2 separate regions of the Homo sapiens genome follow, and region 1 is linked to region 2. The links come from fine-mapping of genetic effects on gene expression. A gene starts in region 2. The other region holds a variant in brackets. All regions are shown on one strand. Distances are from middle to middle.

Region 1 (14,928 bases), 48 kb after region 2:
AAAAACTCGCATTAGTTCTTCAAGCTTACTGTGACACAGAAATTGGCTACTCGCTCATCAACACAGGATTAAACATGTCTAAGGTTAAACTTGTAGTCTAAGTGATACGATTTAAGATGGACTGTCGACTGGGCGCAGTGACTCACACCTGTAATCCCAGCACTTTGGGAGGCCGAGGCGGGCGAATCACCTGAGGTCGGGAGTTCGAGACCATCCTGGCCAACGTGGTGAATCCTCATTTCTACTAAAAATACAAAAATTAGATAGGCGAGTTGGCGCATGCCTGTAATCCCAGCTCCTCGGGAGGCTGAAGCAGGAGAATCGCTTGAACCTGGGAGGCAGAGGTTGCAGTGAGCCTTGGTTGTGCCATTGCACTCCAGCCTGGGCGACAAGAGGACAAGAGTGAAACTCTGTCTCAGAAAAAAAACAAAAAAAAAACAAAAAAGGATTGTGTAGGTTAATTGGTTAATTTTTTTTTTTTTTTTGAGATGGAGTCTTGCTCTATCGCCCAGGCTGGAGTGCGGTGGCGCCATCTCGGCTCACTGCAAGCTCCGCCTCCCAGGTTCACGCCGTTCTCCTGCCCCAGCCTCCCAAGTAGCTGGGACTACAGGCGCCCGCCACCATGCCGGCCAATTTTTTGTATTTTTAGTAGAGACTGGGTTTCACCATGTTAGCCAGGATGGTCTCGATCTCCTGACCTCGTGATCGCCTGCCTCAGTCTCCCAAAGTGCGGGGATTACAGACGTGGGCCACCACGCCCGGCCTTTTTTCCCTTTTGTTCATTGTCTTTAGCCAAGTGGTATTTATTTAGCAAGCATTTTAGGACACAATATGCCGCAAAGTTATCCTGTTGAGTAAGCCTGGTATAAACTGAGAGTTTCTTTCTTTCTTTCTTTTTTTTTTTTTTGAAATGGAGTCTCGCTCTGTCACACAGGCTGGAGTGCAGTAGCACTATCTCGCTATCTCGGCTCACTGCAACTTCTGCCTCCTGGGTTTAAGTGATTCTCCTGCCTCCCGAGTAGCTGGGATTACAGGTGTGTGCTACCATGCCTGGCTAATTTTTGTATTTGTGGTAGAGACAGCGTTTCGCCACGTTGGCCAGGATGGTCTCGAGCTCCTGGACTCCAGTGATCTCAGCCTCCCAAAGTGCTGGGATTACGGGTGGGAGCCACTGCACCTGGCTGGTTATTTTTTTTGCTTGTTTTTTTGTTTGAGATGGAGTCTCGCTCTGTCGCCCAGGCTGGAGTGCAGTAGTGCAATCTCAGCTCACTGCAACCTCTGCCTCCTGGGTTCAAGTGAGTCTCCTGCCTCAGCCTCCCGAGTAGCTGGGATTACAAGTGTGAGCTACCATGCCCAGCTAATTTTCTGTATTTTTAGTAGAGATGGGGTTTTACCACGTTGGCCAGTCTGGTCTCGAACTCCTTTCCTCAAGAGATCTGCCCGCCTCAGCCTCCCAAAGTGCTGGGATTCCAGGTGTGAGCCACTGCGCCCGGCCCCGGCTGGTTATTTTTAAGATGGGACTGAAGTTGAGGGCTGGGCTGCAGGAGGAAAATGAGCTCCGTTCTGATTTCCACTGTTGGAACCCCAGTGCCTCCCTCCCAGCCACTCTTCAGTTCTTGGCTGCGAGCAGTAGCTTTGCTGTCTGTCCTTGGTTTGCTGTATTTGTAATAAGGAACCTTTGCTATGAAATTAGTGGGATACATTGGCTTCTCCTGTCTAATTTTGTGTAGCTCTGTCTACACAGTTTGGGTCCTAACTTGACTGCTCTGGGGCTGCTGGTGGCAGAGGACCCTGGGGCTTGGGAGTCGTGTCTGCGGTTGAATCCTCTCTGTGGGAGGTGGCCTGTGGTGCAGCCTTGTGGCTTGAAGATCTCTGATGTTGGAATGGTTGCTTGTCAGCACAGACAGGGCATGAAGTCCAGGCTGCGTTCCTCACATTTAGACCATTCTCTTTGTCCTGCCAGGTGTAGGTGAGGGTGCACTAGGTTGGAAGTCGTGGAAACCCACCCACCTGAGCCCAACCCTGAAGGGCACTGTTGAGGCAGAGCCTCAGGTGTGCCTTAGGGCCTGGCACCTTTGCTTTGTGCCATTCTGACTTTGCCTGCCTGGTGGGCGACTTCGTGGGCTTTGTGTTGGAGGTGGCTGCTGCAGTGACCTTGGGCTCTGGGCTCCCTTGTTTACAGATGCTTCCCGCAGCTCTGACGGATGGGCCCGCTGTTGCTCTGAGGAGGGCACGTGTGCCGCTGTGTCCCGTCTGTCTCAGCACAGTCACGGTGCGTGCGCTGGGGGCTGTGCAGCAGGGTCACTCCTGAAGGAAAGTGGGTTCTCCACCCAGACAGACGGCTGCTCCCCAGTGGGGAGCTGGGGGCAGTCCTCCAAAGGAAGGCTGCGGGTAATGCAAAGGGAAAAGGAGAGTGGGTACTGAACAGGCGGCTGGTGAGCATTGCTACCACAGCAGGGCCTGGAGCTTAGGCCTCACGTGTTAGGGGATGCATATCCTGTGGAGAGCCGGTTAGTCGTCCCGGTGTGTCCGGAATTGGTGGGTTCTTGGTCTCACTGACTTCAAGAATGAAGCCGCGGACCCTTGCCGTGAGTGTTACAGTTCCTAAAGGCGGCCTGTCCGGAGTTTGTTCCTTCTGACGTTCGGAGGTGTTCGGAGTTTCTTCCTTCTGGTGGGTTCGTGGTCTCACTGGCTTCAGGAGTGAAGCTGCAGATCTTCGCGGTGAGTGTTACAGCTCATAAAGGCAGTGTGGACCCAAAGAGTGAGCAGCAGCAAGACTTACTGGAAAGAGAGAAAGAACAAAGCTTCCACACTATGGAAGGGGACCCGAGCGAGTTACCACTGCTGGCTCCCGCAGCCAGCTTTTATTCTCTTATCTGGCCCCACCCACATCCTGCTGATTGGTAGAGTCCAGTGGTCTGTTTTGACAGGGCGCTGATTGGTGCGTTTACAATCCCTGAGCTAGACACAAAGCTTCTCCACATCCTCACCAGATTAGCTAGATACAGAGTGTCCACACAAAGGTTCTCCAAGTCCCCACCAGAGTAGCTAGATACAGAGTGTCGATTGGTGCATTCACAAACCCTGAGCTAGACACAGAGTGCTGATTGGTGTGTTTACAAACCTTGTGCTAGATACAGAGTGCCGATTGGTGTATTTACAGTCCCTGAGCTAGACATAAAGGTTCTCCACGTCCCCACCAGAATCAGGAGCCCAGCTGGCTTCACCCAGTGGATCCCGCACCGGGGTTGCAGGTGGAGCTGCCTGCCAGTCCCGTGCCGTGCGCCCGCACTCCTCAGCCCTTGGGTGGTCAATGGGACCGGGCGCTCGTCGGGGAGACTCGGTCCGCACAGGAGCCCACGGAGGGGGTGGGGGGCTTAGGCATGGCGGGCTGCAGCTCCCGAGCCCTGCCCTGCAGGAAGGCAGTTAAGACCCAGCGAGAAATTGAGCGCAGCTCCGGTGGGCCGGCACTGCCGGGGGACCCAGCACACCCTCCGCAGCCGCTGGCCCGGGTGCTAAGCCCCTCATTGCCCGCGGCCGGCAGGGCTGGCCGGCTGCTCTGAGTGCCGGGCCCACCAAGCCCACGCCCACCCGGGACTCCAGCTGGCCTGCAAGCGCATGCAGCCGCGGTTCCCGCTCGCGCCTCTCCCTCCACACCTCCCCGCAAGCTGAGGGAGCCGGCTCCGGCCTTGGCCAGCCCAGAAAGGGGCTCCCACAGTGCAGTGGTGGGCTGAAGGGCTCCTCAAGTGCCACCAAAGTGAGAGCCCAGGCAGAGGAGGCGCTGAGAGCGAGCGAGGGCTGTGAGGACTGCCAGCACGCTGTCACCTCTCACCGGGGTGGAATTTGCGTGGAGGAACGTGCCAGGAGGGCCAGCCCTCGGGTGCTGACCCCTCTGTCCTGGAGGCTACTTTGCCTGCATCTCTGCCACAGTCGCTCATCCCCTGCGGTGGGGCTGCTGCGGTCCAGCACGGCCACAGGCATCCAGTTCCCCTGTGGGACGCCTGAGTGCGGGTCCTTGTTGGTCCGTGTGTGAGCCGCGTGGTGGTTTCACATACTTGATTTGAGGAAAGTGAAGTGTTCTGCTTAGGTCTTTGTCTCAGCCTAGGAAAGAGCTCCATTCCTGGCCCTTTTCTGTGTTTGTCCCACTCACCCACTGTCATTTTGAGCTCCTGGGCCAAGGTTTCATGGGGTTCCTCCCTGGCTCCCCCGCTCTGCCTCTGTGGGAACACTTTCTGCACCCTCGGGTCTTTGTTCCCATTGTCAGTGGAACTTTGAACAGAGCTGGCTGGTTCACCTCGTCATTTCAGCGGTGTGGATCAGCAGGCAGGTTCTGCTGTTGACTGAGTGTTGGGCGGGAGGCCCAGGGCCTGCACTCCCTGGCTGGCGGGCTCAGGCTCTGCTTCCCTTCAGGGTGGCTTGGCCCACCAGGTGGCCTTCAGGGCTGGCCTTGCATGCCCCTGCCAGGTCCGCTTGGTCAAGCCCGCAGTCTCCTCGCCGCTGGCCCCTTCTGTTGACTGCCCTGACCTTCCTTGATGACTGGGGACAGGGTCTTCCTGGATATTTTCGTGTGTCTTCCCGGGCCAGTCCAGTGATGCACTTGTGGATAGGGCTGGTCAATGTGGCTGTGGCCAGAGAGTGGACAACAGACATGTCCACAGCAGGAGCAACATGGTGGCTTGTCTTGGGCTGCTGGTTCCTGGAGCTGCTCAGAGGACCGGTGGGTCCTTTCGAGGTGGGCAGCCAGCCCTTGCCGTTCAGGTTCCCGCAGGGGTGCGTGAGGAACCGTCGGACCTGCTCATTAGTTTATTGACTGTGTTTCTGGTAATGGCCTAAAAGGTTAAGAGAAGAAATGGTTAAAAAAAAAAAGAAGAAGAAGAAGAAGAAAAAGAAAGGGCCCAAAATGTGTACAGAGTTGTCTGTGGAGGAGTGGTTTTGGGTTTCCATGTCCGTTGGACCTCAGGCGGTGGTGCTGTTGAAGGTGCCCGGCTGCAGAGGGGCTGTGTTGCAAGGGTGAACTCTGCTTCCTGTGCAAAGGGTGTGGCCCAGGGTGGGGTCGCCCCCAGGCTTGTCTTGTTAAGGGGACCTCTGCTGTGGTGCAGAGGGGGCAGAGGTGCTTGTGAGCCATACTGCCCCTTGCGTGGGCTCCCCTTGCCTGGGTGTGGGGGGTTTCTAGTCTCCTTTGGGGTATTTGCTTCCCCTGTTTGAGCAGATCTGAAGAGAATTTTTTTTTTTTTTTAGACAGTCTTGCTCTGTCACACAGGTTGGAGTGCAGTGGCACCATCTCGGCTTACTGCAGCCTCCGCCTCCCAGGTTGAAGCAGTTCTCCTGCCCCAACCTCCCCAGTAGCTGGGATTATAGGCACCTGCCGCCATGCCTGGCTAATTTTTTTTTTTTTTTTTTTTTTGAGATGGAGTCTCGCTCTATCGCCAAGGCTGGAGTGCAGTGGCACAATCTTGGCTCACTGCAAGCTCCACCTCCTGGGTTCAAGCACTTCTCCTGCCTCAGCCTCCTCAGCAGCTGGGACTACAGGCGCGTGTCACCACGCCCGGCTAATTTTTTTTTTTTTTGTATTTTTAGTAGAGACGGGGTTTCACCTTGTTAGCCAGGATGGTCTCGATCTCCTGACCTTGTGATCCGCCTACCTCAGCCTCCCAAAGTGCTGGGATTACAGGTGTGAGCCACCACGCCCGGCCTTTTTTTTTTTTTTTTTTTTTTTTTGAGACCAGGCTGGCTGGTTTTGAACTCCTGACCTCAAGTGATCTGCCCGTCTCGGCCTCCCAAAGTGCAGGGGTTGCAGGTGTGAACCACCACACCCTGCCCAAAGGGAAATTTTTTTTGTTTGTGGATGTCCAAGGAAAACTTTAAAAATGATTCCTGGCCAGGCACGGTGGCTCATGCCTGTAATCCCAGACTCTGCTGGACTCTGCTGGTGCTCTGCTGGACTCTGTCCCCACAGCACCAGCTTGCATCCCACTTTTTTTTTTTTTCCCCAAGATGGAGTTTCGCTCTTGTCACCCAGGCTGGAGTGCAATGGCGCGATCTCAGCTCACTGCAACCTCTGCCTCTCAGGTTCAAGTGATTCTCTAGTCTCAGCCTCCCGAGTAGCTGGGATTACAGGTGCATGCCCCCACTCCTGGCTACTTTATGTATTTTTAGTAGAGACAAGGTTTCGCCATGTTGGCCAGGCTGGTCTCGAAATCTTGACCTTAAGTGGTCCGCCCACCTTGGCCTCCCAAAGTGCTGGAATTATAGGCGTGAGCCACTGTGCCCAGTCCATCTTGTATTTTTATGCACCTGTCAGTGGGCAAGGACTCCAAACATATTTTTTCTCTTCCTTAGCCACGTAAAGCTCCATAGTCTCAGACAGGTTTCAGCAGAGTCCACGAAAGTATCTGTAGTTGCCTGTCAGGCCAAAGGATTCTGGAACCGAGAGGCCCCTTTGCCTGGGCGGACCTCAGTCCTGAGCTGTGTGGGTGGGTTGTGAAAGGGAAGCACTTTGCAGACAGCCAGTGGCAGACGTGCCGATGAGACTGTGTGCCTGGCCCTGGTGCTGGTGCTGACCTGCAGCAGCTGTTTCTGGAGGGCTTGGGGTAAGTGTCCCTGCGGGCCCCTGTGGCCCTTCTTGGAACTGTGCCCTAGCCGTGACTGGCCGCCTGGCACCCCAGCCCATTCTCACATTTTGCGCCAGTGTCACAGATTTGAATTGACGCACACGCTCCGGTTCTGCTCATCCTTGTCAAACGCAGACGTCATTTGTAGCAGCGTACCCTGCAGTTATCGGAGGTGGGGGCCAGGCTGGGCTATGGTGGCTGTCAGGGAGAGAGGGCCGCCTGTTGGCTCTTTCTTGGGCCCCTCCGCTGCCTACTTGTGCGTGTGGAGGGAAGCAGCTTCACCTCAGTTTTTCCCCGTGTCACATCTGTGAGAATAACCACTCAGGGTTCTCTCAGAACCCATTAGCTCCAGAAGGTGTTCGGTCTCTCCACTCCCTGAGAGATGGAGACTGGTCACAGGGCTCTGTGAAAACACACACAGCTCTGCCATACTGCTGTGGCGTCCAGGGGGCCCCCAGAGGCCGCACGCCCGGCTGAGTGCCCATAGGGCCCAGATTCCATGCCCCTTCTCCTCCAGCAAGGACCCTGGGCCCTGTCCGGAGTTGAACGCTGGCTTGTGTGGATTGCAGCCTCGGCCCACGGGCTTCCTTTGTGATCCGTTGAAGCATCTGCTGGCAAATGGGCTCAGCTCTTGGCTCAGCTGGCTAGGTGGCCAGGTGGCCGGGTAGCTGGGCGTCCGGGTGTCCTGGCAGGCGCTGTCCTCACTGTGAGCTGCAGTGGGCTGCTTGGTCCTGTGCCCTGCTCATGGCACTCACCCTCCTGCCTCCTTTGAGGTTGCTCCAGTGCTTTTTTTTTTTTTTTTTTTTGGTTTTGACCCACTCTGGATCTTTACTAGCTCACCTGTAGTCTATGGGATTGGTGTCTGCTCCTAAACAAACATTTAAAATAACCCTAAGGAGTGCTGCTTGTAATATTCCAGCAAATAGGATGACTTGAATGCCCAGTGGCATTCATACAGTTGGATATGTGGGCTTTTAATTTTTTTCTTTGTTTTTCTGTATTTTCCAAATTCCTATAACAGCATGTTTATAATTAGAAAGTATATTATTAAAAGAATAAAAGCTTTAAAATATGCAGCTATTCAAAAGCACATTTTTTCTTTAAAAAGGATACACGTAAATGTGTCTTTTTTTTTTTTTTTTTTTTTTTTTTTTGAGACGGGGTCTTGCTCTGTCACCCAGGCTGGAGTGCAGTGGTGTGATCTCAGCTCACTGCAACCTCTCCCTCCCAGGCTCAAGAGCTCCTCCTCCCTCAGCCTCCCCAGTATCTGGGATTACAGGCGCCTGCCACCATGCCCGGCTAATTTTTTTGTGTTTTTAGTAGAGACGGGGTTTCACCGTGTTAGCCATCATGGTCTCCATCTCCTGACGTTGTGATCCACCAGCCTCGGCCTTCCAAAGTGCTGGGATTACAGGCGTGAGCCACTGTGCCTGGCCCACACCTGGTTAAGTTCTTGTATTTATGTTTTGTTTTTTTTTTTTTTTTTTGAGGCGGAGTCTTGCTCTGTTGCCCAGACTGGAGTGCAGTGGTGCAACCTCAGCTCACTGCAACCTCCGCCTCCTGGGTTCAAATGATTCTCCTGCCTCAGCTTCCTGAGTAGCTGGGATTACAGACATGCGCCACCACACCTGGCTAATTTTTGTATTTTTAGTAGAGATGAGGTTCCACCATATTGGCCAGACTGGTCTTGGACTGACCTCGTGATCTGCCCGCATTGGCCTCCCAAAGTGCTGGGATTACAGGTGTGAGGCACCGCGCCCAGCTGGTGTCTGTTCTTTTAGGGAACCAGCCCTCTTGGGTCAGGGCCCCACGTTTGCGTTCTCATCTAACAATAACACTTCCTTACTTCAAGCACAGCCACGTGATGGTCAGGGCTGACACATATTAATTGGGCGACACGGTTCGGTCCTTAGTGCCTTTTCTGAGTAACGTGCTCACTGCTATCTTGTGTCCACTGGCTCTTTGAGAGCTCTGCTGCTCTCCTGTCTCACCCCTACCCTGAGGTGTTCATGCACCAGGGCATGGTGCTTTCACTTCTGAGCCAAGTGGGTCAATCATTTTCTTTTTTGAGACGGAGTTTTGCTCTTGTATCCCAGGCTGGAGTGCAATGGCACCATCTTGGCTTACTGCAACCTCCGCCTCCTGGGTTCAAGAAATTCTTCTGCCTCGGCCTCCCGAGTAGCTGGGATTACAGGCGTGCATCACCACACCCAGCTAATTTTTGTATTTTTAGCAGAGACCAGGTTTTACCATGTTGGCCAGGCTGGTCTCGAACTCCTGACCTCAAGTGATCCCCCTGCCTTGGCCTCCCAAAGTGCTAGGATTATAGGCGTGAGCCACCACGCCTGGCCATTTTCTTTCCTGTACAATTTTGTGTGTTTGTTTTTGAGTTAATAATGGCCGTTTTTTTCATTTGATTAAATATTTTACTTTCCAACTTAAATCTTCCCATATTCTTCAGCTCAATAGAGTGCTTGTGAATATTCTTCTCCTCACTGTAAAACCTCTTGGATAAAGTATTTTTTCTCTGGAAGACATGTGTCCTGAAGTCTTCCATATTCCCACTCTGGTTGAAACAGTTACTCTTTAGGCATCCTGTGGTACTGGGTGCCTTGGAGCTGGTGTGTGTGGTACTGGCATGCTGTGTAACTGGGCGCAGTGGTACTGGGTGCTGTTATTGGGTGCCATGGTACTGGGTGTTGTGTTATTGGGTGCCATGGTACTGGGTGCTGTGTTATTGGCATGCAGTGGTACTGGGTGCTATGTTATTGGTGTGCCGTGGTACTGGGTGCTGTGTTATTGGCGTGCTGTGGTACTGAGTGCTATGTTATTGGTGTGCTGTGGTACTGGGTGCTGTGTAATTAGTGTGCCGTGGTACTGGGTGCTGTGTAATTAGCGTGCCATGATACTGGGTGCTGCATTATTGGCATGCTGTGGTACTGTGTGCTGTGTTATTAGTGTGTCCTGGTACAGACTAGTGGCCGAGGTGTGCCTGTGTGGAGATCTGAGGGTGACGTAAGTAGAGGCACTGGCGTGAGGGCCCCTCATGCAGTGTCAGGCTTGCACCTTTGCTTGGAAATTCCATTAGCTTTGGAATTTATAGCTTCGTGGTGCAGTGTGGAGTTATGTTGGAGATACCACAAAGATAAAGCATTTCCATGGTGAACAAAAAAGTTTACAAATAAAAGCAGTCCAGGCCGTTTTTATTTTGGCTTTGTTATGTGTCCACTTACTGCTGTGCATTCTATACGCCAATGGGAGTGTTTTGTAGATTCTCATGAGTTGGTTGCGTTTGGTTCATTTGGGTAAAGTGAAACTCCTTTTAAAAGAAGCAGAAAAAAATTAAATATCTCATAAAAATAAAGATTTTCTATTTCTGCCTCAGAGTGTTTCTCTCTAGTGAGTGGTGTGTAATTAGTGTGCCATGGTACTGGGTGCTGTGTAATTAGCGTGTCATGGTACTGGATGGTTTGCTTTTGGCATGCCATGGTGCTGGGTGCTGTGTTATTGGCATGCT[G/A]TGGCACTGGGTGCTGTGATATTAGTGTGTTGTGGTACTAGGTGCTGTGTTATTGGCATGCTGTGGTACTGGGTGCTATGTTATTGGTGTGCTGTGGTATTGGGTGCTGTGTAATTAGCATGCCATGGTACTGGGTGCTGCATTATTGGCGTGCTGTGCTACTGGGTGCTGTGTTATCAGTGTGCCATGGTACTGGGTGCTGTGTAATTAGTGTGCCATGGTACTGGGTGCTGTGTTATTGGCATGCTGTGGTACTGGGTGCTGTGTTATTGGTGTGTTGTGGTACTGGGTGCTGTGTAATTAGCTTGCCGTGGTACTGGGTGCTGCATTATTGGCATGCCGTGGTATTGGGTGCTGTGTAATTAGCATGCCATGGTACTGGGTGCTGGGTTATTGGCATGCTGTGGTACTGGGTGCTGTGTTATTGGTGTGTTGTGGTACTGGGTGCTGTGTAATTAGCGTGCCATGGTACTGGGTGCTGGGTTATTGGCATGCTGTGGTACTGGGTGCTGTGTTATTGGTGTACTGTGGTACTGGGTGCTGTGTAATTAGCGTGCCATGGTACTGGGTGCTGTGTTATTGGCATGCCATGGTACTGGGTGCTGTTATTGGTGTGCCATGGTACTGGGTGCTGTGTTATTGGCATGCCGTGGTACTGGGTGCTGTGTTATTGGCATGCCGTGGTACTGGATGCTGTGTTAGTGGTGTGCCTTGGTACTGGGTGCTGTGTTATGGGCATGCTATGGTACTGGGTGCTGTGGTACTGCGTGCTGTGTTATTGGATGCCATGGTACTGCATGCTGTGTTATTGCTGTGCTGTGGTACTGGGTGCTGTGTTATTGGCATGGTATGGTACTGGGTGCTGTGTTATGGGCATGCTATGGTACCTGGTGCTGTGTTACTGGTGTGCTGTGGTATTGGGTGCCATGGTACTGGGTGTGCTGTGGTACTGGGTGCTGTGTTATTGGCATGCTGTGGTACCTCGTGCTGTGTTACTGTTGTGCTGTGGTACTGGTGTTATGCGCTCATGCCAAAAGAACTTGAAGGAGAGATGAGTTGGGTTTAGAATTTAGGTTGGGTGGCACCCCCCCCATAAATTTAGAGGAATTTGCACCATCACCTTCTGTTTTTCTGAGCTGCCCTGGAAAGACCTGGCTCCATTCTCTTCATACGGTGTGGATGGTGCTTTTTTTCTTCCCTCCAGACATTTTTTGGATGTTTTCTTTATCAACAGTGTTATTTCATAATACTGTGTTTTGCTGGGGGCTTTTTTCTTTCATCGTGCTGAAGAAACTTGTCCTTTAATTCTGGAGTTTAAATGGTATTTGTTTCTTTTCTTTTTTTTTTTTTTCTGAGGCGAGTCTGGAAAAAAAGGCTTGAGCGATCCTCCTGCCTCAGCCTCCAGAGTAGCTGGGACTATAGGCACCAGCACACCCCACTAATTTTTTTTTTTCGAGATGGAATTTCGCTCTTGTTGCCCGGGCTGGGGTGCAGTGGTGCGATCTCGGCTCACTGCATCCGCTGCCTCCCGGGTTCAAGCAATTCTCCTGCCTCAGCCTCCTGAGTAGCTGGGATTACAGGCATGCGCCACCACACCCAGCTAATTTTGTATTTTTAGTAGAGATGGGGTTTCTCCATGTTGGTCAGGCTGGTCTCAAACTCCCGACCTCAGGTGATCCGCCTGCCTCGGCCTCCAAAGTGCTGGGATTACAGGCGTGAGCAATTGCACCCGGCCCACCTCGCTAATATTTTTTTACAGTTTTTTGTAGAGACAAGGTCTCCCAGTGTTGCCCAGGCTGGTCTCAAGCTCCAGGCCTTGAGCACTCCTCCTACTTTGGCCTCTCAGAGAGTTGAAATTGCAGGTGTGAGCCATTGATTGCATCTGGCCAGAAATGTTATTTCTTTGATAATTCCTTCTCTCCATCTTTACCATTTCTCATTTTAGAACTTATTTGAGATCTTATTTAGATTTTGGACCATTTAGAGTGATCCTTTAAATTTTAAATCTTTCATATATTTTGCATTTCTTTTTGTTGTGTTTTCATATCTTTTCAATACATTTTTTTCCTGCCCTTGCTTTCTGAATATACACTCAAAAAATTATACTTTTTTTTTTTTTTTTTGGTTTAGATCAACATTGTTTAGATCAAAATCTTTCTGGAGATGTTAAGATGTTAAGTGTAATTTTTTTTTTGTTTTCTTTTTTTTTTTGAGAAGGAGTCTCGCTCTTTCGCCCAGCCTGGAGTGCAGTGGCACGGTCTCAGCTCACTGCAACCTCCACCTCCCGGGTTCACGCCATTCTCCTGCCTCAGCCTCCCTAGAGCTGGGACTACAGGCGCCCGCCACCACGCCCAGCTAATTTTTTGTATTTTTAGTAGAGATGGGGTTTCACTGTGTTAGCCAGGATGGTCTCCATCTCCTGATCTCGTGATCCGCCCGCCTTGGCCTCCCAAAGTGCTGGGATTACAGGCGTGAGCCACCGCGCCCAGCCTGGCTGCAGGTTTTATATCCTGTTTCTAAAAGTTAAATATGCTTTACTTGTGATTGTGATGTTGCTGCTGCGAGTTCTCTAAACTGTCCTTGGACCGTGGGGCCCTCAGTTGTTGCTGGTCCACCACCATCTGCAGGAGCTGTGAACAGAGGACTGTCAGGGACCATTGTCGCTGCTGAAGGCTGCCGACCTGTGGACTCTCGCACTGCCTGTGTCAGGCGTCAGGCCATCCGCGAGCCCCTAACGAGGTGTGGGAGTGTCATGCCATCCATGTGGAAACTGAGGCCCTGGGAGATTAAGTAACTTCCCATCTGCTGTAGTCAGGGTCGGGCCCTTAGTCACCGTGGTCTCTGGAACCCACAGGCCTGGAAACAGCGCTTTTGAGCAGGGGCTCAGCGAGGCTGGGGGTCAGACTAGTGGCCGAGGTGCGCCTGTGTGGAGATCTGAGGGTGACGTAAGTAGAGGCACTGGCGTGAGGGCCCCTCATGCAGTGTCAGGCTTGCACCTTTGCTTGGAAATTCCATTAGCTTTGGAATTTATAGCTTCGTGGTGCAGTGTGGAGTTATGTTGGAGATACCACAAAGATAAAGCATTTCCATGGTGAACAAAAAAGTTTGCAAATAAAAGCAGTCCAGGCAGTTTTTGTTTTGGCTTTGTTATGCGTCCGCTTACTGCTGTGCATTCTATACGCTGATAGGAGTGTTTGATAGATTCTCATGAGTTGGTTGCGTTTCTTTCATTTGGGTAAAGTGAAACTCCTTTTAAAAGAAGCAGAAAAAAATTAAATATCTCATAAAAATAAAGATTTTCTATTTCTGCCTCAGAGTGTTTCTTTCCAGACAGAGGCTTCTTCCTGCTGCACACTCAGAGTCAAGGAAACTGGACACAGCTGCTTTGGAGTGTTAGGGACGTCCATGAGCTGTCAGCCCAGGGAAGGGCTCCAGGATCCCTGAGAATGTCATAAAGAGGGTAGACCCAGCTTGGAACTTGCAGTTTCTAAATTACTTCAAGGGAACAAACCAGAGTGCTTCATGTACAGAATTTTTTTTTTCATGTACAGAATTTTTACCTTAACTAGATTGATAAGTGTCCAGTGTTTTAATTTTTAATAAGACGTGGCTTTCAGAAGTTGTTATTTTCGTCTTGTAGCTTCAGCACTGAGAGCTGGTCTCCTTCAGGTGAGTTTTATGCAGGATTCAGGGACCATGACTGTAAGCCGGCAACCTGGTTCTGGGTAAGTGATGTATTCAGACTTCTGCTGAGGAGGCTCTGAGGCTGGCGTGAGACTTGCCACCCTGCAGTCTGCAAGGGCTGCAGTCTGGCTGGCCTTTGTAAAGACCCTGGAGCAATAGGGCAGATTGCATCTTGGCAAATGACTCTAAATTGCCTGCAATTTGCTGGGAATTGCCACTTCCAAATGTTTGTTGCAGCATAGATAATCTGAGCTTGTGAAAGGTCATTGGCTGTTCTTTGGAACCAGTAAATTCCTGGGGGCTTCTGCTCCAGGGGTGAAGGCTGGAGTGAGGGTGCTAGTGTCTCCTGGGGAGGAAAGCATAAAACATTTTTTTGTTCTACTTTTTAAATGTTACCACTCTTCATTACATAAAGTGTTTCTCATCAGATCCTTGTGAACCTAAAAATGTGATGTGAAGCCATTTGTGCAGTTCCAGGCTCTGAAGAGACTTTTGTGACATTGAAGAAATGTGGCAGTGAGCAGCACAAAACTGAATTCAATGCACGGTGTTCACGCTGAGCAGAGGAAAGAGGTCGTCAGTTTCATAACTGATTGTGCTGAGCACTAACTAGTGAGTCTCATTAGTGAGTTCTTTGGTGCATTATAATTTTCAAAGTGTTCTTCATGTACATTATTGCATAGTTTTCAGTCAATGCAAAGACAGATTGTTGTCAGAGTTCTATATGAAAGACGTTTGGTAGCGGGCACAGTGGCTCACATCTGTAATCCCAGCACTTTGGGAGGCCAAGGTGGGTGGATTGCTTGAGCCCAGGATTTTGAGACCAACCTGGGCAACATAGGGAGACCCCCATCTCTAGAAAAAAATAGAAAAATTGAGATGAGTGTGGTGGCATGCACCTGTGGTTCCAGCCACTAGGGAGGCTGAGATGGGTGGGTCACCTGAGACCGGGAGGTTGAGGCTGCAGTGAGCTGTGAATGTGCCACTGCTCTCCAGCCTGGTTGACAGAGAGAGACCCTCTCTCAAAAAAAAAAAAGGGCCGGGCACAGTGGGTCATGCCTGTAATCCCAGTACTTTGGAAGGTCGAGGCGGGAGGATCACGAGGTCAGGAGTTTG
Region 2 (14,928 bases):
CAATCTGGTCACCAAAGACTGCAGCTGCTGCTGCTCCGCCACCTCCTGGGAGAAGCAGCTCCCCTGTTGTGAGCAGCCCTGTGCGGAGGCCCCCATGACAAGGAACTGATGTTTCTGGCCAAAAGCAACATAGGTGGGCTTAGAAGTGAATCTGCAGGAGGCTGAGGCAGGAGGATTGCTGGAGCCCAGGAGGTTGATGCTGCAGTGAGCAGTGATTGTGCCACTGCACTCCAGGCTGGACAACAGAGCGAGATCCCATCTCTTAAAAAAAAAAAAAAAAAGTGGGCGTGGTGCAGTGGCTCACACCTGTAATCCCAGCACCTAGCTAGGCCAAGGTGGGCAGATCACTTGAGGTCAGGAGTTTGAGACCAGCCCAGCCAACATGATGAAACCCCGTCTCTACCAAAAATACAAAAATTAGCCTGGTGGGATGTGACACGCCTGTAGTCCCAGCTACTCGGGAGGCTGAGGCACTAGAATCGCTTGAACTTGGGAAGCAGAGGGAACAGTGAGCTGAGACTGTTCAACTGCACTCCAGGCTGGGCAACAGGGCGAGACCCGGTCTGGAAAAAAAAACAAGTACATCCCCCCTTAGTCAAGCCTTGGGGTAACCTCAGCGTGGCTGACACCTTGACCACAGCCTGTGAGAGCCTCTGACTCAGAGGCTCCCTGCTAAGCCCCACCCAGCCTCCTGTCCACAGAATCTGGAAGATAATGAACGTGTGCTGCTTACATCATGAAGTTGTGGGGTATTTGTTATGCAGCATAGATGACTAATACAAACAGCAGCCAGGGAGGTGCAGAGTGGCATCACCTCCAACCAGAGCTGGGCTTCAGGGGCTCTGGTGGTCCATGGGGCTGTACTGCCGCTCAGAGGCCAGCGCTGGAACTGCGTCTGGGTCTCACTGCCATCCAAAGCATGGACTGCCTATCTGGTTTCACTCTTGGAGTGGCACCACTCAGAGGGCCCCAGAGCCTGACTGAGGATGAGGTGGAGTGAGGAATCAGGGCTGAGCACGGCCGTGGATTTCTGGAACATTCCTATGGATGTGCTGGATGGTCCTTGTAGAAGGTGCTCAAAAAGATACCTGCAGGGTGGGACAGCGGGGGGATCAGGACAGCTGAATTCTGTCCCAGCCCTACGACTGTTACACCCATGTAGGGAGGGCATTGCCCTACATGGAGGTCTCTCACCTGTTTTATTTTTTTAAATATTTATTTATTTATTTATTTATTTGGACGGAGTCTCGCTCTGTCGCCCAGGCTGGAGTGCAATGGCATGATCTTGGCTTATTGCGAGCTCTGCCTCCTAGGTTCAAATGATTCTCCTGCCTCAGCCTCCCCAGTAGCGGGGACTATCGGCGCCCGCCACCACATCCGGCTAATTTTTTGTATTTTTAGTAGAGACGGGGTTTCACCGTGTTAGCCAGGATGGTCTCAATCTCCTGACCTCGTAATCCGCCTGCCTCAGCCTCCCACAGTGCTGGGATGACAGGCGTGAGCCACCGTGCCCAGCCTGATATCTTATTGTTACAGGTTTCTAACTTAATTCCACTGTGGTCAGAGAACATATTCCCTTTGGGAGGCCAAGGTGGGCGGGTCATGAGGTCAGGAGTTCGAGATCAGCCCGGCCAACCAGTGAAACCCCGTCTCTACTAAAAATACAAAACTTAGCTGGGCATGGTGGCAGGCACCTGTAATCCCAGCTACTCGGGAGGCAGAGGCAGGAGAATCATTTGAACCCGGGAGGCGGAGGTTGCAGCAAGCCAAGATTGAGCCATTGCACTCCAGCCTGGGCAACAAGGGCAAAACTCCGTCTCAAAATAAATAAATAAATAAATTAATTAATGAAAGAGGACATATTCTCTACCACTTAAACTATTTTAAATTAATTGAGACTTGGTTTATGGCCCAGCATGTGATCTGTATTGGAAAACAAATTGTGTGCGCTTGAAAAAAATGTTTATTCTGGCTGAGCGCGGTGGCTCACGCCTGTAATCCCAGCACTTTGGGAGGCCGAGGCAGGTGGATCCCTTGAGGCCAGGAGTTGGAGACCAGTTTGGGCAACATGGCAAAACCCTGTCTCTACAAAAAAAATTTCTTTTTTTGAGACGGAGTCTCGCTCTGTCGCCCAGGCTGGAGTGCAGTGGCGCAATCTCGCCTCATTGCAAGCTCCGCCTCCCAGGTTCACACCATTCTCCTGCCTCAGTCTCTGGAGTAGCTGGGACTACAGGCGCCCGCCACCATGCCCGGCTAATTTTTTCTATTTTTAGTAGAGATGGGGTTTCACCGTGTTAGCCAGGATGGTCTCGATCTCCTGACCTCGTGATCTGCCTGCCTTGGCCTCCCAAAGTGCTGGGATTACAGGCGAGAGCCACCGCGCCCGGCCCAAAAAAATTTTAAAAATTAGGTGGGTGTAGTGGTGCGCGCCTGAACTCCCGTTAGAAACCATGAAGCTGTTGTTGATCCTCCCATCTTGGCCTCCCACAGTGCTGGGATTACAGGCGTGGCCACAGCCCTCGGCCCTGGACCCCATTGTTTCTAATGGGAAGTTATGCCATTCAATTGTTCCCTGGACTATAATGTGTTATCTTTCTCTGTCTGCTTTCAATATTTTCTCTATAAGTTCGTTTTCCAGCAGTTTGACTATGATGTAATTGGCTATGGTTTTCTTTGCATTGATTCTTGTTAAGCTTCACTAAGCTGCTTGAATCTGTAAATGAATGCCTTTCACCGAATTTTAGAATTTGGGGTATTTCTTCACATATTTTTTTTCTGTCTCAGTTTGTCTTCCCTGTCCTCTTGGATTTCCACGTGTACACAGGCTAGACCTCTTTCTTTTTCTTTTCTTTTTTTTTTTTTTGAGACGGAGTCTCACTCTGTCGCCCAGGCTGGAGTGCAGTGGCGGGATCTCAGCTCACTGCAAGCTCCACCTCCCCGGTTCACGCCATTCTCCTGCCTCAGCCTCCCGAGTAGCTGGGACTACAGGTGCCCACCACTGCGCCTTGCTAATTTTTTTTGTATTTTAAGTAGCGACGGGGTTTCACCATGGTCTCGATCTCCTGACCTCAGGTGATCCGCCTGCCTCAGCCTCCCAAAGTGCTGGGATTACAGGCGTGAGCCACTGTGCCCGGCTAGACCTCTTTCACCTCTGCTGAGGTCACTGCAGGGAGATCCAGGAAGAGTGGGCCCCTCCTTGTAGGAGGAGCACAGCCTCAGTCCCAGTCCCATCGGCCCGCCCAGGTACACTTCTGAGGGACACCAAGGGGAGCCTTCTCAGCAGAGAGCAACTCTTGGGCCTCCTACCCCGGCAGCCATCTCTGTCCCTGTCACCTTTGTTCCCACCCCTTGGAAGGGACAAGGACATCTGCTGTGGTTCCGCGCTCCAGTGCTGCTGGACTCACCCCAGGCTCCCTGCAGGCTGAGCGCTGTGCGGTCACTGCCCATGCCCTTCATCTTCCAGCTCACTCGCACCCACACCCAGGACAGGCATTCATTTGCTCAGACAAAATGGGGATAAATAAGAACCACTGCTGGGCGTGCTGGTGCTGGCCTGTAATCACCTGGGAGACTGAGGCAGGGGGATCCTTTGATCCCAGGAGGCCATTGCTGCAGGGAGCCACCATGTTCCCACTACACTCCAGCCTGGGCGACACAGCAAGACCCTGTCTCAATAAAAAAAAAAAAAAAGGAAAAAGAAAAACCCGTCTACTGCCATCCGCTGAACGTAAAACAACAACAAAAAGCTGGACTGAATGTAAAACAACAAAAAACTGAACTGTCATTCCCAGCACTTTGGGAGGCCGAGGCGGGCGGATCACCTGAGGTCAGGAGATCAAGACCATCCTGGCCAACATGATGAAACCCCATCTCTACTAAAAAATACAAAAATTAGCGGGGCATGATGGTGTCCACCTGTAATCCCGGCTACTCAGGAGGCTGAGGCAGGAGAATCGCTTGAACCTGGGAGGCGGAGGTTGCAGTGAGCTGAGATCGCGCCATTGCACTCCAACCTGGGGGACAAGAGTGAGACTTCGTCTCAAAAGAAAAAAAAAAGTGTGGGGAAAAGAAGAGAGATGAGATTGTTACTGTGTCTATGTAGAAAACTCCATTTTGATCTGTACTAAGAAACATTGTTTCTGCTTTGAGATGCTGTTAACCTGTAATTTTAACAGAAACCTGTGCTCACAGAAACATGTGCTGTGTTGAATCAAGGTTTAATAGGTTCAGGGCTGTGCAGGATGTGCCTTGTGAACAATTTGTTTGCAGGCAGTGTGCTTGGTAAAAGTCATCGCCATTCTCCGTTCTCGATTAATCAGGGACACAGTGCACTGCGGAAAGCCGCAGGGACCTCTGCCCAAGAAAGCCTGGGAGTTGTCCAAGGTTTCCCCGCACTGAGACAGCCTGAGATATGGCCTCGTGGGGAGGGAAAGACCTTACCATCCCCCAGCTCCACACCCGTAAAAAGGTCTGTGCTAAGGAGGAGCAGTGAAGGAGAGAGGCCTCTTTGCAGCTGAGATAAGAGGAAGGCTTCTGTCTCCTGCTTGTCCCTGGGAATGGAATGTCTCGGTGTAAAGCCGACCATTCGTTCTATTCTGAGATAGGAGAAAACCGCCCTGTGGCTGGTGGCGAGATATGCTGGCAGCAATACTGCTCTGTTACTCTTCGCTACACTGAAATGTTTATGTAAAGTGAAACATAAATCTGGCCTATGTGCACATCCCGGCACAGTACCTTTCCTAGAACTCACTCATGATACAGATTCCTTTGCTCACATGTTTCCCTGCTGACCTTCTCTCCATCTGTTGGCCTGCTACACTCCCCTCGCTAAGATAGTAAAAATAATGATCAATAAATACTGAGGGAACTCAGAGACCAGCGCCCCTGCAGGTCCTCTCAGGCTGAGTGCGCCGGTCCCCTGGGCCCCCCTTTCCTTCTCTATACTTTGTCTCTGTGTCTTATTTCTTTTCTCAGTCTCTTGTCCCACCTGACGAGAAATACCCACAGGTGTGGAGGAGCAGATCCCCTTCAAAAAGGGTACATACTTCCTACTTTTTTGGATTGGGAAATGACCTTTCCTTTTTTTTTTTTTTTTTTTTTTTAGACGGAGTCTTGCTCTGTCACCCAGGCTGGAGTGCAGTGATGTGATCTTGGCTCACTGCAACCTCCACCTCTCGGGTTCAAGCGATTCTCCTGCCTCAGCCTCCCAAGTAGCTGGGACTACAGGTGCGTGCCAGTTTTTTGTATTTTTAGTAGAGACAGTTTTCACCATATTAGCCAGGCTGGTCTTGAACTCCTGACCTTGTGATCCACCCGCCTCTGCCTCCCAAAGTGTTGGGATTACAGGTGTGAGCCACCGTCCCCAGCCCTTGAATGATTTAATTAGTTAATTTATTTATTTTTGAGATGGGGTCTCGCTCAGTCACCCAGGCTGGAGTGCAGTGGTGCGATCTTGGCTCACTGCAGCCTTGACCTCCTGGGCTCAAGGGATCTTCCTGCCTCAGGCTGTGGAGTAGCTGGGACTACAGACACACATGCCACCATGCTTGGCTACAATTTTTTTTTTTATGGTGACAAGATATATATATATATATATTTAGAATTAGGCAGCTGGACTCAGTTTAGATGATCCCAATTTTGTTGGCAACATCCAACGCATCGTAATCAGGAGCCAGTCGAACACATGCCTTCTTCTCTCCATCAGGCGGAATCAGGGTGGTGACCTCGGCCACATCACCGTCATAGAGCTTCTTCACAGCCTGTTTGATCTGGTGCTTGTTGGCTTTAACATCCACAGTGAACAAAAGCGTGTTGTTTTCTTCTGTCCTCTTCACGGCCGACTCCGTGGTCAGCGGAAACTTGATGACAGCATAGTGGCCAAGCTTGTTTCTCCTGGGGGTGCTCTTCCAAGGATATTCAGGCCGCCTCCGGCGTCGCAGTGTCTTGGGCCGCTGGAAGGTGAGTGACGTGCGGGTCTTCTTTTTTATGTGGCTGTGGACACCTTTCAACGCTGCCTTCTTGGCCTTTAAAGCCTTCGCTTTGGCTTCGGCTTCAGGAGAGGCAGGAGCTTCCTTCTTTGCTTTCAGCGCCATCTTGTGAAAAGGCCAATTTTTTTTTTTTTTTTTTTTGGTTTTTTTTTTTTTGTAGAGACTGGGTTTCACCATGTTGCCCAGGCTGGGAAAATGACCCTTTTTTTATGAAAGAATAATAATGCATGATAGTTGAGCCTAAAAAAGCCCCAAAACTCTGGGGAAACTATTTCTGTCTGTGAAACTCTGATGTCTGGGCACCTGTGGTGTGGTTCATGCTGACAGGTTAGGGCACTGGGTCAGAAAGACAGGGTTACGGTCTGCACTCCTCCTGCCTGACCACAGAGTGAGAGAGACCCATCTCCTGCCCTCAGGAAACTCGGGGCGGAGTGGGAAGACAGGGTCTCCCATGTCTACCAGGTGGCCATGAACAGACAGAGGGAAACTCCTTTCAACCTGCAGAGCCTGGGAGAGTGTCCACAGAGAGAGAGGGGTCCTCACACAGTCTTGCACACAGGAAGCATTTGCAGGAGGTGCACAGGGTGGTTATTTGGAGAAAATTGGATTACGGCTTTTTTTTTTTGCTTTTATTTAACTTTTGATATTTTTATCCAAGACAACTATAATAATGCTTATTGCTGCTGGGCGAAGAGCACACCGACTGTGGAAAGCTGCTCCCACACCCAGCAACCCTCCCCTCCGGCCAGGCTGCAGGCAGCTGGAGTCTACCCTCACCCAGGCTCACTAGAGGGGGACCTGGGGAGGGGGCTTGAGGGTCTTCCTGTTTGTTTGGAAATACGATGCGTCCCTGTTATCCAGCAACTGGATTTTTCACTTTACTGACATTCCTTCTGAAGACACATTTATAGACCCATCTAAAAGTTGCATAAATATTCAGAGTAGGCCGGGCGCGGTGGCTCACGCCTGTAATCCCAGCACTTTGAGAGGCTGAGATGGGCAGATCACGAGGTCAGGAAATCGAGACCATCCTGGCTAACATGGTGAAACCCCGTCTCTACTAAAAATACAAAAAATTAGCCGGGTGTGTTGGCAGGCGCCTGTAGTCCCAGCTACTCGGGAGGCTGAGGCAGGAGAATGGCGTGAACCTGGGAGGCGGAGCTTGCAGTGAGCCAGGATCGCGCCACTGCACTCCAGCCTGGGCGACAGAGCGAGATTCCATCTCAAAAAAAAAAAAAAAAAAAAAAAATCAGAGTAGGCCGGGCGCTGTGGCTCATGCCTGTAATCCCAGCATTTTGGGAGGCCGAGGCGGGCGGATCATGAGGTCAGGAGATCGAGACCATCCTGGCTAACAGGGTGAAATCCCATCTCTACTAAAAACAAAAAAAATTAGCCAGGAATGGTAGCGGGCGCCTGTAGTCCCAGCAACTCGGGAGGCTGAGGCAGGAGAATGGCGTGAACCCGGGAGGTGGAGCTTGCGTGAGCCGAGATCGCATCACTGCACTCCAGCCTGGGCGACAGTGAGGCTCCGTCTCAAAAAAAAAAAAAAAAAAAAAATCAGAGTATATTATAGCATGATTTATTTACCCATTGCCCTCATGGAGCGCCCAGGTTTTTCCAAATACAAGCAGTTCTGCTGCAAACATCCTTGTGTGTCTGTCTCTAGGCCTTAGTGTTCTCCATTACATTTTTTTTTTTTTTGAGATGGAGACTTGCTCTGGTTGCCCAGGCTGGAGTGCAGTGGCCTGATCCCTGCTCACTGCAAGCTCCACCTCCCGGGTTCAAGTGATTCTCCTGCCTCAGCCTCCTGAGTAGCTGGGATTACAGGCTCATGTCACCATGCCTGGCTAATTTTTATATTTTTAGTAGAGACAAAAATAATTCGCCATGTTGGCCAGGCTGATCTTAAACTCCTGACCTCAGGTGACCCGCCCACCTTAGCCTCCCAAAGTGCTGGGATTATAGGCATTAGCCACCGCGTACGGCCTCTCCGTTACTTTTTTTTTTTTTTTGAGATGGAGTCTCGCTCTGTCGCCCAGGCTGGAGTGCAGTGGCGCAATCTTGGCTCACTGCAACCTCCACCTCCTGGGTTCACGCCATTCTCCTGCCTCAGCCTCTGGAGTAGCTGGGACTACAGGCACCTGCCACCACGCCCGGCTAACTTTTTATATTTTTAGTAGAGAAGGGGTTTCACCATGTTAGCCCAGGATGGTCTCGATCTCCTGACCTCGTGATCCGCCGGCCTCAGCCTCCCAAAGTACTGGGATTACAGGCGTGAGACACCGCGCCCGGCCCTCTCCATTACATTTTAATGTTGGCACAATAATTTTCAGAAGGTTGAGGGGGTTCACATGCCTGCCAGCAAAGTGTGAGCATCTGTTGTGGCAAGGGCTGCGTGGCTGTTTTTTGACAAAGTGGCTTGTTTTGTTTCCCTGACCAGTAGCCTGACTGAGCTGTGTTTCCTGTTACAGAAGAGTCTCTCCATTGCCAACACTCTGTGACTTAGCAGACGTCTCTGGACTTCCGTCTGGGGATTCTTACCCACCTTCAAGTTCACCAGCCCTCAGCTGGAGCACTGGAAGTGGGGGCTCTGCCGCTTCTCTCCCTCTCCGGTGGGTGACTTGGGGCACAGGAACCTCAGACTAAGGTGACTCACTCAGGGGAGGGCAGTGGGAGGAGGGGGGCTTGGGCCCAGCCTGGAGCAGGGACTGGGTCTGGAGCAGTCCTGGGTGCTGGTGCTGACCTTGGTTGCTGGGTGCAGTCCGGCACAGCACACTCAAATCACGGCTCAGCAAAATCTGCAATCTGACCTCCGTGCCTTTAAAATGAGAACCCCTGGGAGCCCCCCTTTCCCCTCAGTCGGGGCTGAGGACGGCCCAGCTGGGATTCCCGGGAAACAAAGGGTCTCTTTAAGGCTCAGCCGGGGCTTCCTTCCTCCCCGGCCAACACCCTCCACCTCCGCTGCTCTGGCCTTCAGGGGTCTGGGCTCGTGGAGTCAGCTTCCCCTCCCCCGCTCCGTAAACCCTCACCACCCGCTGCGGCGTTCAAAAGGTACAAACAGGTATGGTCCCTGCGGCCATCCCCATCCCCACCCCGCCTCTCCTCCTCCAAGGTCAACCAGTGTAGCCGGTGCTGGATCATTCCAGACATTCGATGCCTTTGACACACACAAAGGAAACGTGTTTTTCTCCCTTTTCTACACAAATGGTAGAGCTTTGAACACACCGTTCTTCCTGTTCCTTTCTTGCAGCTACTGCTGCACCTGGTGGACCATTTCCAAGCAGCACAGCGCTTCCTGTCTTTCCTGTCTCGGCCACGCTCTGTCTCGTTTAGACCCCGTATGAATGATTTGAATGTCCCACCGGCCAGTGACACGCATGTAGGCGGTGCCACATTGACTCACTGGACGCATGCAGTGTGCCACTTCCGTGAACGTACCTGGAGGGAAAAACGCAGAGGTGGAATTCCCGAGGGAAGGTCATTGCTGCTGTTACTTCAGTGGACAAGTCGGGGGGGTTCCCACGAGGCTCCCACATCCTCTGCCTGCTGCAAGCAGTGTCTGTGGGCCACAGTCTCACCTGTTAGTACAGTTTTTATTTGCCAATGTGTTAGGTGAAAGGAAAAAGAAGTCACTTTAATGGGGTTTTCCTTTAATTTTTTTTTTTTTTAAACTTTTTACCCTCACATCCTGGGAAGGACACTTTAGTGTTTTGTTTTTTGTTTTTGTTTTTGTTTTTGTGTTTTTGTTTTTTGAGACGGAGTCTCGCTCTGTCGCCCAGGCTGGAGTGCGGTGGCGCGATCTCGGCTCACTGCAACCTCCGCTTCCCGGGTTCAGGCGATTCTCTGGCCTCAGCCTCCGGAGTAGCTGGAGTAGTTTTTAATTTGCATTTCTGCGCTGAGGGAGGAGGATCAGCGTATCCCTGGCAGCTGTCCTTCAGTATTTTCTAGGGGAGCGTTTCTGTGATTGATTTAGAGCTGTTTATTACTGCACTGTTACTAGTCTTATTAAGGTGAGCTCTGCGGTGTGAGCTGCAAGCTGTGTCCCCCACCTCCCAGTCGGGGGCTCGTCTTTTGGACTTCGCTTATGCAGTTTGGCTTTGCAGACGCCCCCACCCCCCTCCCACCCACGACGCGGCGGAACTTCTGGACTCTGTGCCACGCTTGGAAAAGCCGACTTGGCCCTAAGACGGAAAAAGCTTCCCCGAGTTTTCTAGGCTTTATCGCTTCCTTTTTTCGGCTCAAATCTTACATGGTGGGAATCCATCCAGGTGCAAAGCGCCGGGAGTTGATGCCACGCACCCGTGTGAACCGCCACCCCGATCGGGTACTACAGTCCCTAAACACAAGCAGCCTTCTCGTCTGTGCATAAAAGCGTGGATCTGACACGCACCTGCAGCGGCTCTGCGGCGTGAAGGCCGGCCCGGGGGTCCCCGTGCTGAGGCGCCTGACTCAGGCCCACGCGCGCCGGGCGGGGCAGGGCAGGGCGCGGGTTCCTCTCGGTCCCAGGCGGAGGTCGGCGCCTCTGCCCCCCGCGGGCTCCCCGAGCCTGCCACGGAGGTCCCGGCCGAGCGGAGCTGGGACTCAGCGAACCGGCGGGGAAGCCCCGCGGAGCCCACGCCTCGGGGAGAATTTCCTGCGTGTTCCGAGCGCGCCCGGCGCGACCTCTCCGTCCTGGGACCCCCGCGATCCCTCCATCCCGCGCCCTCCCTCCAGCGTCCCCCCGGACCGCGCGCGCCCCGGTCCGTCCCCCGCGCGCCCCACGTGACCCCTCCCCCCTACCGGCGCCCCACGTGACCCCTCCCCCCGGCGTCCGCGCCCCCCCCGGTCCCGCCCCCCGACCCCGCCCTCGCCTTCCCGGCTCGGCCTGCGGGGCGGGGCCTGCGGGCGGAAGTGCCCGGGGCGACGGCGGCGGGGACCGGCCGGGCCATGGGCGCCGGGGGCAGAGGCGGAGGCGGCAGAGGCGGAGGCGGCAGAGGCTGCCCGGGCGGCGGCGGGGGCCGGCGGCGCGGGACGCGGGCCGGGTAGCGCCGGGCCGAGCGCGGAGCCATGGGCCGGGCTGGCACCGGGACCGGGGGCGAGGCGGTGGCCGCGGTGGTGGCGGGGCCGCTGCTGCTGCTGCTGCTTGCCCGGCCCCCGCCTGCCTCCGCCGGCTACAGCGGGAAGAGCGGTGAGCGGGAGGCGCGGGCGCCATCGGGGGCGTGGGGCCGGGGCTGCGGGCGGGGCGGGATTGTGACACCCCGGGCGCACCTGTGCGCTCATCTGGCGCCGGCGCGGGGTTGGGGGTCCCCGCCGCGGGTTGGGGGTGCACAGTGGCCCTTTGGGGCGCTTCGTGTCCTAGGGGTCGAGGCGGACGGGACCCCGCGCTTCCTCCTCGGTCCCCCGATCGGGGTTGGGCCACATCGGCCCCTGGAGCGCCCCCTCCCCTCCCTCCTCCTCCCAGAGCGCCCAGGTCCGGCGCGCCCGGCGCGGGGAAGTGGAGGGGCCCAGGGGACTCTGCCCGGGACTCCAGCTGGGAGGAGTGGCTGGGCCGTGAGCTCACCGGCCGGGTCCGGCCTGAGAGAGGGGCAGAGCCGGGAGAAAGTTGTTAGACCCTGTAGCGGGGGCCCGTGGGCGTCATGGCTCCAGCCCTTCCGCAGTGACCCCCAGCCCTGGTACGGCCGCTTCCTGCCGCCGGCCCGGCTTCTGGGAGGAGGGACTCCCAGCTGGCGGAAGAGGGGCTGAGGAAAGGGCGCCCCTCTCCCCTCTTGTTGGGAAACTCGCCGGGCTCCCTTTGCATTTCTGTTCCCTGAGGGTCCCCGTCCCTGACTGAGGTCCAAGGAGGCGGCTGGACCAGGGAGAAGGCGTAGCCCTTCCACGGGGTAGGGACGTGGGTGTGGAGACCGTCAGGCCTTGGCCACCCTGAGATGGTGAGGACTTGCCCCGGCCTCTGTGGCCTGGGACTCTGGAGGGGCCGTGTCCTTTCTGGCCGGCTGGAAGTTCCCACACGTCCCCAGCCACGCGGGTGCCCAGGTGCCCGGCAGCTGATGCGGTGCTGTTCCCCGACTTCCCGGCCCCCAGCCCCTCCCCTCCCCTGCCCCTGAAATAATGCTCCTTTGAGCTCCTGTTTCTTTCGGGGGCTGTGCCTCCTGCTTTCTGAGCTTGGCACAGGTAGAGATGAAAGGCAGTTTTCCCCGAGGACCGTGCCCCGGATTAAATTGCTCCATGGCCAGGCGCGAAGCTCACGCCTGCAATCCCGCACTTTGGGAGGCTGAGGCGGGTGGATCACCTGAGGTCAGGAGTTCGAGACCAGCCTGACCAACATGGAGAAACCCCCTTCTCTACTAAGAATACAAAATTAGCCGGCAGTGGTGGCGCATGCCTGTAATCCCAGCCACTCGGGAGGCTGAGGCAGGAGAATCGCTTGAACCCGGGAGGCAGAGGTTGCGGTGAGCCGAAGTCGCTCCATTGCACTCCAGCCTGGACAACAGAGCGAGACTCCATCTCAAAAAAAAAAAAGAAAGACAGAAAGAAAAAAAAATAACCTGGGTGTGGTAATGTAAGCCTGCGGTTCCAGTTACATAGGAAGCTGAGGCTGCGGTGAGCCGTGTTCATGGCACTGCACTCTAGCCTGGGTGACAGAGTGAGACCCTCAGAAATACCAAAACCTTACTCCGTTGGAAACTGGCAAAGGAAATTCTCCTGTCCCAGAACTCAGGCCTGGTGAGGGGTTCCTGGGAGATGGAACCCCTGTGTGTGGACAGTGGAGAGGCCTGGTGTGCTGGCTCAGCCCCTCACTCCTCCCAGCCTGCCGAGGAGTAAGTGCTCTGTGGCGTTGTGGGTGGTCAGGGTCTCCCATGGGTGCCTGTCCCGGTTTGGAGGACGTGGGTCTGGGGTCTTCACTCAGGTTCCCAGGACAGGGCCAGGGACTTGCATTACCACCTTCCCCACCCAGCCCTGTGTCCGTGGAGGGGCTGTGGGGCAGGCAGGGGGCTGTGTAGCTGGCCCTCCTCACCCTGTGGTCACCTCGGCTCAGAGCACCCCTAACAGCCTGGTATGTGTGGGCAACTTGGGCAGGGAGCTTGGGCTGCAGAGCCCTGGGAGAGGCCTGGAGGGGCTGTGAGCCCTGGGAGTCGGGGACTGGGTGTTAGGACAACCTTGAACAGATCTCTTATCTCTGTGTACCTGCTGAAACTTCACAGCCACCAGCTGGGTTCTAGGTGCCCTCAGGCTGGCGCTCCAGGGCCAGAGGGGCTGAGGGCTTTGCCCCAGCAGCCCAGGGGCTGTGTGTGCTGCAGGTGGCCTCCCCTGCCTGCCCCCGCAGAGGCCGGCTTTCTCCGGGACACCGTGGTCCTGGGGGGCTGTCCTGCTTCAGCTCCCAGCACTTGAGCTTTCTCTGCCCACATTATCAGGCCACAGCCTGGTGGGTGGGACCTGGTGGCCAGCAGACACCTGGAAAGCCTGGAGTGCGTCGTGGGTGGAGCCTGGCCAGCCCCTGCCCAGTCGCCACGCCAGGTTCCCCTGGAGCTTGGCCTGGATTTGCCGACAGGCTGCTATTGGCAGGTGTATCGTTTCTTCTGGTGCCTCTATGGGAGGGTCACGAGGCTGGCAGGAGAGCCTGCTGCTCACCTGTCTCCCTCCTCAGGAGGGGCCTGGGCCTGAGCCAGCCACTCTCCAGTGAGACCTAGGCAGCGCTCCTGAGTGTGTGGGGAGGGGGAGCTGCAGCAGAGGGGAGGGTCCCGCCCCCTGCTGTGTCCACTGTGCTTTTCCTTCTGAAGCCTTTGTCGTTAATTAACCTCGGAGGGAGGGGCCCCCAAAGGGATGTGCCCTCCGCCCTGACCTACCCAGGAGAAGGCTGGGACCCAGGGAGGGAAGGATGCCCAAGGTCGCAAGGGCACGAGGCTGGAGCTGGCACGGGGGGCTGGGGGTGAGAGCCTGAGTCCTCGCCTGGGGCCATGAGCAGGATGTCTCCCACGGGCCCTTCTCCATCCCCGCACCAGGCGTGGGTGCGTTCCCTGAGGACAGTTAGGAGCCTTGCCCGCTTGGAACGCAGAGGGCAGCTGTCCCCTTGTTCTCATGACTGGCCAGGCTTCTGGCCTGGGTCCCTCCCACATGCAGTATCTCCCTCTGGGTAAGGGGAATTTGGGCTCCGGTCTCGCCGTGTCCAAAGTCATCATAGCCCAAGCAGGCAGCCAACCCATCCAGGGATGGAGATGTGGGAGGCTGAGAGGAGGTGGGAGGACCGTGCCTTGATATCCAGGGCATCTGTGATGAGGGGCGGGGGCTCCTTCCTGACACCTGCTGGGTCCTTCGGCTTCGACCTGGGTTGGCCATGGGGAGTGTAGTCTTCTAAGGTTGGAGGGGGTCCGGGTGGCAGTGCGGGTGGGGATGGCAGTCAGAGTGGCGATGGCAGTGCGGGTGGCGATGGCAGTGTGGGTGGCGATGGCAGTGCGGGTGGGGATGGCAGTGTGGGTGGCGATGGCAGTGCGGGTGGCGATGGCAGTCAGGGTGGCGATGGCAGTGCGGGTGGGGATGGCAGTCAGAGTGGCGATGGCAGTGCGGGTGGCGATGGCAGTGCGGGTGGCGATGGCAGTGCGGGTGGCGATGGCAGTGTGGGTGGGGATGGCAGTGCGGGTGGGGATGGCAGTGCGGGTGGCGATGGCAGTCAGGGTGGCGATGGCAGTCAGGGTGGCGATGGCAGTGCGGGTGGGGATGGCAGTGCGGGTGGCGATGGCAGTCAGGGTGGCGATGGCTGCTGAGGTACCCTGCGGCTTGTTTGGAAGCTGCTGCAGTGAGGCGGCAGCTGTGAAAAGACCCAGATGCCAGGAGGGTGGGATGTAGGCCATCTGGGGAGGGACAGCAGAGGATCTGGCTGAGGGGCCAGAGGGTGTCGGTGACCTTTGCCAAGGTCAGAGTTGGTGTGCCAAGATCTCCAGGTGGGTCCCCGGGGGCTTCCAGCCCTTTC

What was found. PIP is the estimated chance that this variant, and not a neighbour inherited with it, causes the effect.
Region 1: its variant is fine-mapped to the expression of PGAP6 in thyroid (GTEx, PIP 0.99).

Annotation. Positions count from the first base shown.
Region 1 is chr16:329,987-344,914 of GRCh38, reverse strand. All of the region lies in intron 2 of AXIN1 (axin 1), which reads left to right. Among named protein-coding and RNA genes, the nearest start is that of AXIN1, 15 kb to the left of the region's middle. RefSeq lists enhancers at 2,899-3,450, 4,733-5,457, 8,392-8,686. The variant G/A (reference allele first, on the strand shown) is at 10,129.
Region 2 is chr16:377,927-392,854 of GRCh38, reverse strand. It overlaps PGAP6 (post-GPI attachment to proteins 6), which reads left to right and starts at 10,877. Exons shown (of 13, transcript NM_021259.3): 1 at 10,877-11,154. The coding sequence starts at 11,034. LOC100134368 (a long non-coding RNA gene) reads right to left here and starts at 10,614. Exons shown (of 3, transcript NR_024453.2): 1 at 10,378-10,614; 2 at 9,426-9,565; 3 at 1-1,088. It also overlaps the pseudogene RPL23AP5. RefSeq lists silencers at 2,194-2,371, 10,411-10,760, 10,781-11,010, 11,051-11,200, 11,331-11,450 and an enhancer at 10,885-11,784.